2 linked regions of the Homo sapiens genome follow. The protein of the gene in region 1 interacts with the protein of each later gene in a pairwise test. Each region holds a gene or a part of one and is shown on either strand. Other genes may lie near its edges.

The links.
Region 2: the proteins of AP3M1 (region 1) and FRMD6 interact in binary tests that used the Homo sapiens proteins (3 or more experiments, as listed by UniProt).

The regions. Positions count from the first base shown.
Region 1 is NC_000010.11:74,126,827-74,133,853, reverse strand, and holds part of AP3M1 (AP-3 complex subunit mu-1), read left to right. Parts: intron 1-3,861; coding exon 3,862-3,947; intron 3,948-4,612; coding exon 4,613-4,746; intron 4,747-7,027. UniProt on the Homo sapiens protein: Part of the AP-3 complex, an adaptor-related complex which is not clathrin-associated. The complex is associated with the Golgi region as well as more peripheral structures.
Region 2 is NC_000014.9:51,703,896-51,710,922, forward strand, and holds part of FRMD6 (FERM domain-containing protein 6), read left to right. Parts: intron 1-853; coding exon 854-1,040; intron 1,041-4,182; coding exon 4,183-4,338; intron 4,339-7,027.

The DNA of each region.
Region 1 (7,027 bases):
TGAAACTCTGTCTCTACTAAAGATACAAAAAATTAGCCGGGCATGGTGGCGCGCACCTGTAATCCCAGCTACTCGGGAGGCTGAGGCAGGAAAATTGCTTGAACCCAGGAGGCAGAGGTTGCAATGAGACAAGATCATGCCATTGCACTCCAGCCTGGCTCTGTCTCAACAAAAAAAAAAAAAAGAAGAAGAAAGGAAAAGAAAATTGAAGTCCTTTGGCAGTATGGTTTCGGTGGAAAGGCATTCATTATCTGATGATTTTTAAATCTGTTTGTTTATTTATTTATTTATTTGAGACGGGGTCTCACACTGTTGTCCAGGCTGGAGTGCAATCACATGATCTTGGCTCACTGGAACCTTCACCTCCTGGATTCAAGCGATCCTGCTGCTTCAGCTTCCCAAGTAGCTGGGATTACAGGCATGAGCCACCACACCTGGCTAAATTTTTTTTTTTTTTTTGAGACGCAGTTTCACTCTTATTGCCCAGGGTGGAGTGCAATGGTGCAATCTCAGCTCACCGCAACCTCCGCCTCCCGGGTTCAAGCAGTTCTTCTGCCTCAGCCTCCCGAGTACCTGGGATTACAGGCATGCACCAGCATGCCCAGCTAATTTTGTGTTTTTGGTGGAGATGGGATTTCTCCACGTTGGTCAGGCTGGTCTCGAACTCCTGAACTTAGGTGATCTGCCCGTTTCGGCCTCCCAAAGTGTTAGGATTACAGGCGTGAGCCACCGCTCCCGGCCCTGGCTAATTTTTTGTATTTTTAGTAGAGACGGGGTTTCACAATGTTGGCCAGGCTGGTCTCAAGCTCCTAACCTCAAGTGATCCACCTGCCTTGGCCTCCCAAAGGGCTGGGATTACAGGCGTGAGCCACTGCACCTGGCCCATAAATCTGTTTATTTTGCCCATAGGTTACATATAATTTTCATAACCACTAGTTGAGGTCTGCCAAACATGTAAATCAGAACTCATAATGCCTTACTTTAAGCCAATTATTACCCTATGTACCTCTACCTCTTGCTATTTATTCCTTCTAACATTTATTGAAAATCTGCTATATACCATGCTTTTGCTACTACATTATGTGCAGTACTTCTGGTAAAAGCCCCTATCTGATTATTTTTCACTTTCTTTTTTTTTTTTAAGTACAGGGTCTTGCTCTTTTGCCTAGGCTGGAGTGCATTGGCGCAGTCCCTGCTTACTGTAGCCTTGACCTCCAGCTCATGTGATCCTCCTACCTCAAACTCCTGAGTAGCCTATAGTCCCAGCCAATCAGGAGGTACACGCCACACGCCACCATGCCTGGCTAACTTTTATTTGTTTTTTTTGTACAGACAGGGTCTCACCATGTTGCCCAGGCTGGTCTTGAACTCCTGGGCTCAATCAGTTTACCTACCTCAGCCTCCCAAAGTGCTGGGATTACAGGCATCAGCCACCACACCCAATCTGATTATCTTTTTAACCAGACAAAACAATAGTACTCTATAAGAATCGTAAAATTTTATTATTAAAAATAGCAGCCGGGCATGGTGGATCACGCCTGTAATTCCAGCACTTTGGGAGGCCGAGGCAGGCAGATCACTTGAGGTCAGGAGTTTGAGACCAGCCTGGCCAACATGGTAAAACCCCGTCTCTACTATAAATACAAAAATTAGCTGGGCGTGGTGGCAGGCGCCTGTAAACCCAGCTACTTGGGAGGCTGAGGCAGGAGAATTGCTTGACCCTGGGAGGCAGAGGTTGCAGTGAGCCAAGATTGCACCACTGCACTCCAGCCTGGGTGACAGAGTGAGACTCCATCTCTAAAAAAACAAAAAAAGAAAAAAGAAAAAAAATCTAGTCCTTCCTTTACATTTATTTTACACATAAGGAAAGCCCAGAAGGGTTAAGTGAACTGTTCCAGGTCACACAACTTGTTAATATGTAATGATGGCTTATTGTGAATTATAGTCAATATCTTCTCTTCCATGAGTCCCCTTTTCATTATAACATTCCATCTTATAGAATAATAGATTTTTGCCAGGCACGGTGGCTCACACCTGTAATCCCAGCACTTTGGGAGGCTTAGGCAGGAAGATCACTTGAGCCCAGGAGTTCAAGACCAGCCTAGGCAACATAGCAAGACCCCATATCTATCAAAAATTTAAAAGATTAGCTAGGCATGGCTTCCTTAATCCTACCTATTCAGAAGGCTGAGGCAGGAGGATTGCTTGAGCCCAGGAGTTCAATGCTGTGGTGAACTATGTTCACACCACTGTACTCCAGCCTGGATGGCAGAGGGAGACCCTGTCTCTTAAAAAAAAAGAGATATCTTTCTATTATGGATCCTATTTCTTAAAAGTTAACTTAGTCCATTTCATAATACACTTGCCACATTTTAAAATTCTATTGAAGCCGGGCGCGGTGGCTCACACCTGTAATCCCAGCACTTTAGGAGGCTGAGGCGGGTGGATCACGAGGTTAGGAGATCCAGACCATCCTGGCTAACACAGTGAAACCCCATCTCTACTAAAAATACAAAAAATTAGCTGGGTGTGGTGGCAGGCGCCTGTAGTCCCAGCTACTCGAGAGACTGAGGCAGGAGAATGGCGTGAACCCGGGAGACAGAGCTTGCAGTGAGCCCAGATAGCGCCACTGCACTCCATCCAGCCTGGGTGACAGAGCAAGACTCCGTCTCAAAAAAAAAATTAAAAAAAAATAAAATTCTATTGAAAATGGTTTTGGTTGGTTTGTTTTATTTTGTTTTTGAGACAGAGTCTCACATTGTCGCCCAGGCTGTAGTGCAGTGTTGTGGTTTCAGCTCACTGCAACCTCCGCCTTCTACGTTCAAGCGATTCTCCTGCCTCAGCCTCCCAAGTAGCTGGGACTACACGCACACACCACCACGCCTGGCTAATTTTTTGTATTTTTAGTAGAAACGGGGTTTTGCCATGTTGCCCAGGCTGGTCCCAAACTCCTGAGCTCAGATAATCTACCCACGTCAGCCTCCCTAAGTGCTAGGATTACAGGCATGAGCCACTGCGTCCTGCCAAATGTTTTAAACTCATATCCAGTCATCTTACAGGGTTGGCTCCATAAAGGAAACAGTTTAATTTTCCTTAGAATTAGCATATTCTGGCTGGGTATGGTAGCTCACACCTGTAATCCCAGCACTTTGGGAAGCTAAGGTAGGCGGATTGCTTGAGCCCAGAAGTTTGAGACCAGCCTGGGCAACATAACAAGACCCTGTCTCTACAAAAAAAATACAAAAATTAGCCAGGCGTGGAGGTGCATGCCTGTAGTACCAGCTGCTTGGGAGGCTGAGGTGGGAGGATTGCTTGAGCCCAGGAGGTTGAGGCTGGCTATCATAGCACCACTACGCTCCAGCCTGGGTGACAGAGCAAGACCCTGTCTCAAAAAAAAAAAAATTATATTCTACAGTGGCATACCTGTAGTCTCAGTTACTCTGGGGACCAGCTGGGACTAGCTAGTCAGACTTTATCTCTTAAAAATAAAAGAATTATTATTATATTCCAGCCAGAGTTAAGTATGGACCTTGTCCCCTGACCTGTTAATAGAGATGTAAAGCTTCAGTTAATCTGACACCCAGAGGGTATCTCTATTGTTCTAGATGTAGTGATTGTTGGGCTAGGTGTCATGGCACGCACCTATATTCCCAGCTATTTGGGAGGCTAGGGCAGGAGGATTACTTGAGCCCAGGAGTGAGGCTGCAGTGAGCTATGATCATACAACTGCACTCCAACCTTGGCAACAGAGCAAGACTCTGTCTCTAAAAACAATAAATAAAAATAAAAAGATACAGTGATAGGTCTAGTGAAGACTCATATTCCATTGATGTTATCTTCCTTTTTTTTTTCTTTCTTCAGGATCTACAGTCTTTGCAGAAATTCAGGGGGTCATTGATGCTTGCATTAAACTATCTGGAATGCCTGATCTCTCCCTTTCTTTCATGGTAAGTTTTATTCTCCTGTTTTATAGCCCCTTGAATGCCTAATACATGTGAAGTACTAAATGAAATGATAAATATTGAGATAAGTTTGCATCTTAGATTGCAAAGGATTATCTCAGAAATATTCCTAGCAGAGTTTCCTAAGACAGTCGCTTACATGATGAGCGTGGTCTTTGTGGAAAGACTAAGGGAGGTCTTTGCCTGAGTGTGCTAGAAGGGGCTTAAAATTGGCTGGCTGGCTTCTGCAAATATCCAGTATCATTTTTACTGAATAATTATTTGCTTTGCTGATATGAAAGGACACTGGTCTTTTGTATCATTTTAGAGTCAGCATGATATACTGCTAGGAACAATTAAGAGAACTGACTTCTGGTGTTGTCACCAGTTTGCTCTGACCTTAAGTCCTCTGAACCTCAGTTTTTTAATCTGTTAAAGGGAAATAATACTACTTGCCTTTTCTCCTTTATAGTTATTGAAATTCAAATAAAATAATGTACATAAAATATTTACAAACTTTAAAGCATTATGAAACTATAAGGTTGTGTAGATGTGGTCATAAACTCTTCCATGACTGCTTTATCTTCAGGGAACATATTTGTCAAGGTATCTGAGTACAGTTCCCATATTCATTATAGTCTATGAACGACTGTCTTCTGTTTTTCTGGCAGAACCCTAGGCTTCTGGATGATGTCAGCTTTCACCCCTGCATCCGGTTCAAGCGTTGGGAATCTGAAAGAGTTTTGTCATTTATTCCTCCAGATGGAAATTTCCGACTCATATCATACCGTGTCAGCTCACAAAAGTATGTTGATGCATCAGCCAGAATCTGCCATCATACATATCAAGTACAACTCACCTTTCCCTGTTTCTTTCTGAAAGTTGAGTACTTGAGGTCATCACTGCTCACTTTAACCATAGCTCACCAGGAGACCCAGTGAGAACGGGTGAAAATACGCACCTAAAATAATCCGTATACTTTGAATGTATGAGTGTAGAGTGGTACTAAGTGAGACTAGAGTAAAATCTATAGCCAAGAACAAGCAAACCATACATAACCTGGGCAAAAATTGTGGTACCGGTCCTTTGCAAGGTTATGCATGGTCAAATTATGGCACTGGTTCTTTGCTCAGGTTATGCATGGTCCATTTTGCTCTGCTTCTGAAAGCTGAGTACTTTGCAAGCAGAGCAAAACGGACCATGCATAACCTGGGCAAAACCATGAACCATTGCCATAATCTTACCATAGTCTGTAGAGTTTGTGGCCAACAAGGAGACAGACCTACCTGTAGTTCGTGAGGACATTCCCCAATTTACCTGCTTCAAGTACGTCTTCTCTGCGTTGAGTTTTTAAGGAACTGTTTAGCATTGAGGGGCCGGGTGCAGTGGTTCACTCCTGTAATCCCAACACTTTGGGAGGCCAATGTGGGCAGATCACTTGGGGTCAAGAGTTCTAGACCAGTCTGGTCAACATGGTGAAACCCTGTCTCTACTAAAAACACAAAATTAGCCAGGCGTGGTAGCGTGTGCCTATATAATCTCAACTACTTAGGAGGCTGAGGCATGAGAATCACTTGAACCTGGAAGGCAGAGGTTGCAGTGACAGATCACACCACTGCACTACAGCCTGGCCAACAGGGTAAAACTCCATCTCAAAAAAAAAAAAAATTTAGCATTGGGGATCGGAGTTATAGGTAGTTTGTTTCTTGAAAATACCAAAAGTTATTTGAGTAACATCATGACAGAACTCAAAAACAGAGAAATTATTTCTCGGCTCTTTTCTTTTCCTTTTTTTTTTTTTTTTTTTTTTTTAAGCCGGAGTTTGGCTCTTGTTGCTCAGGCTGGAGTGCAATGGTGAAATCTCGGCTTACTGCAACCTCCACCTCCAGGGTTCAAGTGATTCTCCTGCCTCGGCCTCCCAAGTAGCTGGGATTACAGGCATGCACCACCACACCCGGCTAATTTTGTGTTTTTAGTAGAGGCGGGGTTATTCCATGTTGGTCAGACTGGTCTCGAACTCCAGACCTCAGGTGATCTGCCCACCTCAGCCTCCCAAAGTGCTGGGATTACAGGCGTGAGCCACCGTGCCTGGCCTGTTTCTTGGCTCTTATCACATAGGAACTGTTTTCATTTATATAAAACATATTTTACATTATTTTTCAGTGGGATCATAATTCATTTTAAACTAGGGCCATTTGCCCCAATTGTTTTTGTTTGTTTGTTTTATGTTATTTTGTTTTGTTTGTTTGTTTTGAGACGGAGTTTCACTATTGTCACCCAGGCTGGAGTGCAATGGTGTGATCTTGGCTCACTGCAACCTCTACCTCCTGGGTTCAAGCGATTCTCCTGCCTCAGCCTCCCAAGTAGCTGGGATTACAGGCACCTGCCACCGCGCCCAGCTAATTTTTGTTTTTTGTTATTTTTTTTTTTTATTAGAGAGGGGATTTCACCATGTTGGCCAGGCTGGTCTCAAACTCCTGACCTCCAGTGATCTGCCTGCCTTGGCCTCCCAAAGTGCTGGGATTACAGGTGTGAGCCACTGCACCCAGCCACCCCAATTGTTTATACTGTTATTAAACTTCAGATTTCTGTCTTGATTTGTATACAGTTCCCAGCACAGTGGTACAAGAACATTATGCTGTACTCAGCTCCCCCTTGTGTAGATACTGAATCTGCAGTTCTAGAGGTACTGCCATCTTGGTATCCTTGGAGGACTGGTTGCAAAAATCAGCAGATGCTCGAGTCCCTTACATAAAATGGTGTAGTATTTGCATATAACCTATGCACATCCTCCTGTATACTTTAAATCATCTCCAAGTTACTTGTGATAGTACACTGTAAACACTGTGTAAATAATTGTTATACCATGTTGACTTTTTATTTTTATTGTAGTTATATTGTTATTTTTTACTTTTTTTTTTTTTTTTTTTTTTTTTTTTTTTGAGATGGCGTCTCGCTCCTTTGCCCAGGCTGGAGTGCAGTGGCACGATCTCAGCTCACTGCAATCTCCGCTTCCCAGGTTCAAGCGATTCTCCTGCCTCAGGCTTCCAAATAGCTGGGACTACAGGCATGAGCCACCACACCCA
Region 2 (7,027 bases), on another chromosome or scaffold:
GTACACACACATTTTTACTTTGATCACAAAAGCATCCTATTTGCCAGTAAATATTTTTTGGAGCTTTTACCATGTTTTCCCCAGTCAGCATTTCTTAACGTATTTAATGATGACTGTATTTATTTCTGATCTCAAGAGATTGTAATGAGTGCTCTGTTAGTATTTCCTTTTGTGGGGAGTATAATAATTGTCGTGACATGTGCCTGTAAAAACATAACAGTAATGTAACATTCACTTCAAAAAAATCCCCAAAAAAAGATTTAAGGAAAGCATTCATTGCATTTCTTCTTGGAGAAGTTTAAAAAACGGAAAAGAAACCTTTGTTAAGCAAATTTTTTTCCAGAAGAGTATATATGCAAATACTTATAAAGGGCCTTAGAGTATTTGTAGTGTGTTCAGTTAAAAAATAATAAAAAGAACAGCAAAACACTGAAGCAGGATTGCTCCTCAGATTTTTCCTTATTTATGTCACGTGTGTAGCATCATTGTAGCAACATTAGTACAGACAACACATGTCTAGTTTCTATTCTAATACTTGTTCAGTGAAATATTTACCATTTTAGAGTGGAATGATTCAGACCTTTTTCTTCTCTGAATGAATCAAATGCTGTAAGCCTTAGGAAACGTTATTTTTATTGTCTGGATAGTCTGATTTGGGGTTCTGACCCCCTGCAACCTCAGTGAGGCAGCTATCAGATATTAGCTACAACCGCTTCCTTTTCAGTGAGGTGGGAGGGAGGAGCAGAAACAGAAGGGTTCCTGTCACCAGATGGAGAGAAGGATTTGGGTTCTGTTTACATGTCATTGGATTATTCCATCAAAATGTGAGTTCTGTTTTCTTTTATTTTTCTAGTGACAGAGCAGCAAGATACTATTATTACTGGCACCTGAGAAAACAAGTTCTTCATTCTCAGTGTGTGCTCCGAGAGGAGGCCTACTTCCTGCTGGCAGCCTTTGCCCTGCAGGCTGATCTTGGGAACTTCAAAAGGAATAAGCACTATGGAAAATACTTCGAGCCAGAGGCTTACTTCCCATCTTGGGTAAGCACTGTTTTCAAATTCGAAAGAGTGTTTTCTCTCGGGCATTTCTAGTTCGTAGTGTTGCTACTCATACTCTTTAAGAAATGGGAACACAGATGTTCTGTGGCCAAATTCTTTGTGATGCCCAGATATTTAATGCTTAAGAACGTGGTGCACATCATGTCTTCATGTACTTAGTCTGCTTATGGTGAGTGGGGTAGAGAATTGCCATCCATCCTGATAATACAGTGGAGCTTGGAATTTACCAGCCTCCTTTCAGCATTGACATGCCCTTGACCTTCTTGCCTACTCTTACCGAAGCAGTATTTTCTCCCTTTGAAGGCAGAAAAACATAACTCTTTAAAAAGTAAGATTATTCCTCGCTTTCCTTTGCTGCGAGAACAAGTATGTCAACTTCTGGCTCCGGCCTCCATGTCCTCCACTCTCGGGGAGGAACTAACCCCTTCTTTCAGCAAGAAAATGTGGGTTATTCCAACGTGAACTGTCTCAGCTGCGCTTTCTCCACTCCACCCTGTCTGTTTCTCTTCCCGTCCTTCCTCCATGTCTAGGCTGTATTTTCTGTCTCTCTTCTATATCATTAGCCCCTCCCCAAAGTAACTCTTCTTCAGTGAGAACATGCAAAACATGTTTGGTTCTCACCCACCCATCCTTGAGAAAGAAAGTGGGGAGGGAAAGAAGAGCTACTACTCTTGCCTTTCCTTCTCAGTAAAGCATCTTGAAGAGGTAGTGTGTATTTGATTTTTTCAGCTTCTTTACTTCCCACAAGTGTTCCTCAAGCCATTTCCATCTGCCTTCTTTCCCCATCAGTCCACTCATGGTGCTGCCTGTTAGGTTGCTTTATATCAATACAGTAAAGAAGTAAAAAATTAAATATGCACTACTTTTGCTTTATATTGACACCAGTTGCTTTATATTAACATATCCAGCAGACTCTTTTCACTAAATTTTGCTGCTGTACCTGACACTTAACTACTCACATCTTGGGAGATCTCATCCAAATTAATGCTTTTAACGATCACCTATGTGAAGGCAAGTCCCAAATCTGGTTTTTTCCCCTATATCCATAAGGTAGCTGTTTACCCATAGGCCGTTCAAACTCAAGATGTCCTAAATCAAATTCATTTTCTTGCCACCTCATTTCTACGTATTCCTACCTCTGAGTACGTGGGAGTCATACGGAACTCTGCCTTATCACCATTCCTTCTCCCTGTCCTGTCCCATCAACTGTAACACCTTGTAATGTCTGTGCTTGAATACCAATCACCCAGCTTAAGAAATAAAATTATCTTCTATTTTTATTGCCATTAGCCTTCCTAAATGTCCATTGCCTCCTCTCCCTGTCTTAGCTCCTGCTGTTTCTAGGTTCGTGTTCTCAGCAGCACTGTTGCAGAAACTTGTCCCTGCTTCGGTCTTTACTCCACAGCTTGCAGATGAGATGATTTTGCTTCTGACTTAAACTTTCAGGGCCTCCTCTGTCACCTGTGGAGTGAAGCTCAGGCTCCCATGCATAACCTAGAAACTCTCCAGATTATAGTCCCTGCCAGCCATTCCAGCTTCCTTTCTGGTTGTCCTGCACCTTGAACTTTAGGCTCTGGCAACATCCAGCCATTGGTGTGTCTCCATACTTACTGTGGTGTTTCATGCTTCAGGTCTTTCTTCTTGCAGTTCCTTTAGCCAGTGAAGCCCCTCTCTGTTTCACCTGGCTAACTCCTACTCATCCTCCGAGACTCAGCCCAGGTGTCGCTCCTTCTGGGCAGACCATCTAGGTGCCCAGTGCTCAAGAAGAACCTGGGAATAGTGTTTTACATCTTATTTTAAAATGATTTATTTCTTGCTCCCAGTAAACTGTTTCTTAGTGTGTTCTGAAAGACGGGCATAACCTTAACCTTTTCTATTTCATCAGCTCTTCATATTGAGGTACTCAGTAATTTTTTGTTGTGTGACTTAGAGTGCTTCATTTTTTTGGAGAGAAATCACAATGTCTGTCAAACTATTGCTGTCTGTAGCATGTTTGCATTCTCTGGTTGTCATCAGGTGCTCATTGAATATTGATTATTGAAATCCAGTTAGTATGCCAGGGCAACCAGTGTGCTGAGATATCAGTTTCCCCCACCCTTGGGATCACCAAAGCCATCTGCTTTAGTGCCCTTACAAATACTGTTTTCAGTGTGCTTTTGACCTGAAAAAAAGGTTGATAAATAACTGATTTAACTGATTACCATGTGAAAAGAACCTGGAAAGAAAAATCTGTGTAACTTGAGTTCTTAGCAGAACTTGACAACTGACTATTAATTCATCATATTTAATTCTCTGTAAAATATTCAATAGGAAGAAACAAAATGTCAATATAAAGACATTTTAAAACCAAAAAGTCTGTAATTTTTAAATTTTGATTATTTTAAGCACGACTCTTGCTCACATTGCATAATTCTTTCCATCTGTTAAGTTCCTTATGGAATCAGCTAAGACTTTAATCAACACCTTTCTCTTAGCCTGCAGCTGCTGGATACTATATATTTGACATCTGAAAGCCCAGAGTACTGTCTGATGAAAATCTAAGTCACAGTGAATCACAATGAGTGTTTGAATGAAACGGTTTTCTCATAAGTATTCCAGCAGTGTTCATATCAGCCTCTTATGCAAGAACCAAAAATGTTTTAGAGAATTTCTCCCAGTACCCTGCCTTCTTTTGATTAACATTTAGAACCTCCCAGTCTGTGGCTGAAATTTTCTTAAGAGTTAGGTAGGATCCAGAACCTGAAGATGTGCCTACTATAGATGTATTTCATGGTACCAAGTATAAACTTGCAAGTATAAACAATTATGTGTACAAAATTATGAAAGTTTGTGTAGTGTTTTTCTCTTGGTGACTTTAAAGCAAAGATAACTTATTTTTCCTATTTGTTGTGATTTTTCTTCTTAGGTATTCAGCAGTACAACTAAATTGACTCTATAGCTTCTAGTATTAGCTGATTTAGCCTAGTAACATAACAGATGGTGAAAACAGAATGAATTTTCAATGCAAACCAACCAGTTTACATGGCCTATTTTAGCTTCTCATTCTTTCATCATTTTGGGGGTGGGGGTAGAACTTACATCTCTCCAACAAATGTTGCATTGCACACCCCTTGTATCCCAACAGGTTGTTTCCAAGAGGGGGAAGGACTACATCCTGAAGCACATTCCAAACATGCACAAAGATCAGTTTGCACTAACAGCTTCCGAAGCTCATCTTAAATATATCAAAGAGGCTGTCCGACTGGATGACGTCGCTGTTCATTACTACAGATTGTATAAGGTATGAAACGGCAACTAAGTCTTCAGCTTCTGAGAAAAAAACATCTTCTCAATAGGATTGAGAAGGAAAACCGAAGGATTTCATTTCCATTAAAACTTATTTCATTTTTTACATGCTTTTAAAAGAGTTTCATTGAACTGCTTTTTGTTATCGCACGTCAGTCTTGGAGGCCATGGTGCTTTTACTCTGGCCTGGAAGCGGGGTGGAGTATTTTTTAATGGTTCTAATAGTGAGATGACAATTGGCTATAAGATGTTAATCTGACTTTTTTAGTGATTATGGCATTGTTATTTCTCTCCTCCCCAAATCTGCTTTTCTGCTTTGGGGAATAGCATTTGCAACTTCTTTGATAAGTAATTTTTAATATTCCTCAAAGTGAAGCTATACCTGCGTTGTATCCGTCAGTTACAAGAACATTACCACAACAGGTAATGTTTATGGAGTCCTGTGTTTACTGGGCACACTTTATATGTGTTTTTTTTAATCCTCATAACTTTATATGAAAGGTACTTTAATCTTTATTTTACAGTCCAGGAAACTGAGGCTTAAAGAGATTAAATGAATCACCTAAGATCACAAAACTAAATGGCAAAGCCAGGATTTAGTCAAGGCCTTCTTGATAACATAGGCTGTGAGCCTAAGGCACTGTATTCCACACGTTCCTCACTCTCGGAAGTTACTCTCCTTTGTGTCCCGTGTATCTCTAGCCTCGTTTTTCCTTTCTGGGGCAGAGGTCACACACCCAAATAACAACTGGGGCCATGCTCTGCAGGGAATCACTCACAGTACTCTATATCATCTTGTCTTCTCTTCCCCTCCTCCTCCTAACCCCTTTCACTATTCCATAAGTGCCACTTTGTTGGCAAGAACTCCTGAATACCCACTTAAGTATTCAAAGGTGTATTCTCAAACCAAATGGATGAAGTGGTTAAGAGCACTGTAAGTTGAGCCTAACTGCCTAGGATTGAATCTCAGTTTGGCCTCTTACTATGTGACCTCAGGCAAGTTACTTACTTAACCGCTCTGTACTTCAGTTTCCCCATAGTTAAAGGGGACAGCAACATACCTGCTTTTTAGGATTGCTGAATACTAAAGGAATTGTTGGATGAAAAACTGCTTAAAACAGTGCCCAGCACATGTTAAGCATGATGTTAAGTTGGCTGCTGTTACCATTACCATTGATAGTATTATGCTTGTTATCTCTACTTTGCCTTTTGTGGTAGGATTAGCATAGCTAGACCATTGGAAACTGGGCTTTAGTTTGGATGTATTGCTCAGTAATCTTGTTAGCTGGTTCAGAAAACTTAAGGGACCAACTGATGTTTTTTCTATCTCTCTTCTATGCCCAAGAGATGCATTATTAATGCCCCATCTTCCTTGAAAGGCATAATTGAGTTCCATAAGATCTGTTTGGCTAAATTCCTAAAGGACTGAGTTGTAATTTTTTTTTAGCCTGAAGAGATTTTATTTGTGACACCTCAATTGACACAAGAAAATGCAAATAAATGACAGTTTTGATAATTAGTTTATATTTTAAAATGTATTAGAAGTATGAATGATATGTTGGAAAGAGTAAGAGTGTGGCTTTGGAATCAGATGTCAATTAGAAACCCTATGTCACTACTCGCTATAGCTGGGATCCTAGGCAACTATAATCCTGAGCTGTCTATTAAGTGGGGATGATACAATATGCTTCACAAGGTTGGGAGGCTTTGGTGAGATAATGAATCTGAAATAATGAGGTGGAATACCTGGCACATTAGTGAGTGCTCAATAACCATTAATTGCTTTTTGCCTTATTTGCTGGGGAAGCTTGCTATTTTAAAGAATCCTATTAAGAAATAAGAATCTTTTGTTGAAGTAGATATCCCCAATTTATCTTCTGTGTAAAACTTAATTTTCAAGTTTACTTAAAGTATGGCGCTTCTGAATTGCATAGAAAATGACTCTTATCTGCTAAAAAGATTTTTAGTAAAAATGTAACATAATGAAGTGGGGGAAAAGATATTGGCTGATTCACAGTTTTTATTCTTTGGAGAAATTCAGCGGCAGCCATTAAATCTGCTTCATTTAGGAGCTGCTCATAAACGGGAAATAAGGTAGACAAAGGACAAGGGAACATTCTGGAAAAAAAACCCGTTTTGTGCCCCTTTCCCACCAATATATACCGTATACTTGAAAACCAGCATTTTTATGAGCATAGCCTTATTTTGGAAAGCAATCTGTACATCCTTGAAAGCGAAATTGACCAAAACTCATATAATGATGGATTAGTTTCTCCTCTTAAAGCTTATGCTATATGTGTTTTTCTTGATGTAAAAATATACTAGTTGGAAAGAAACAGCCTAAATAGTAGAAATAGGCTGTGTCTTATATTTATAATGCCAGGTGAGGACACATGTTTTAAAAATATTTCATCCCATGTTCATGGGAAAGCTGGCACTAAGCTTAAAAAGATCTCTGCATACTCATTGTGTTTATTGGGAAATCTCATAATGAAAATATTTACTTAGTAATTTCATTTCTATTTTGAACTTTATACACTATATATACTTATTACAGATGAGCACTTAAAGGATGTGGCTGAATTTTAAAGTGAATTTTTAATTGTGGAGGTTTTTTTTTCCCCTTATGCTCATTGTAGTTTATTTTCTACAGTTTATGGTTTAGCTGGTAGATTGTGTATCAT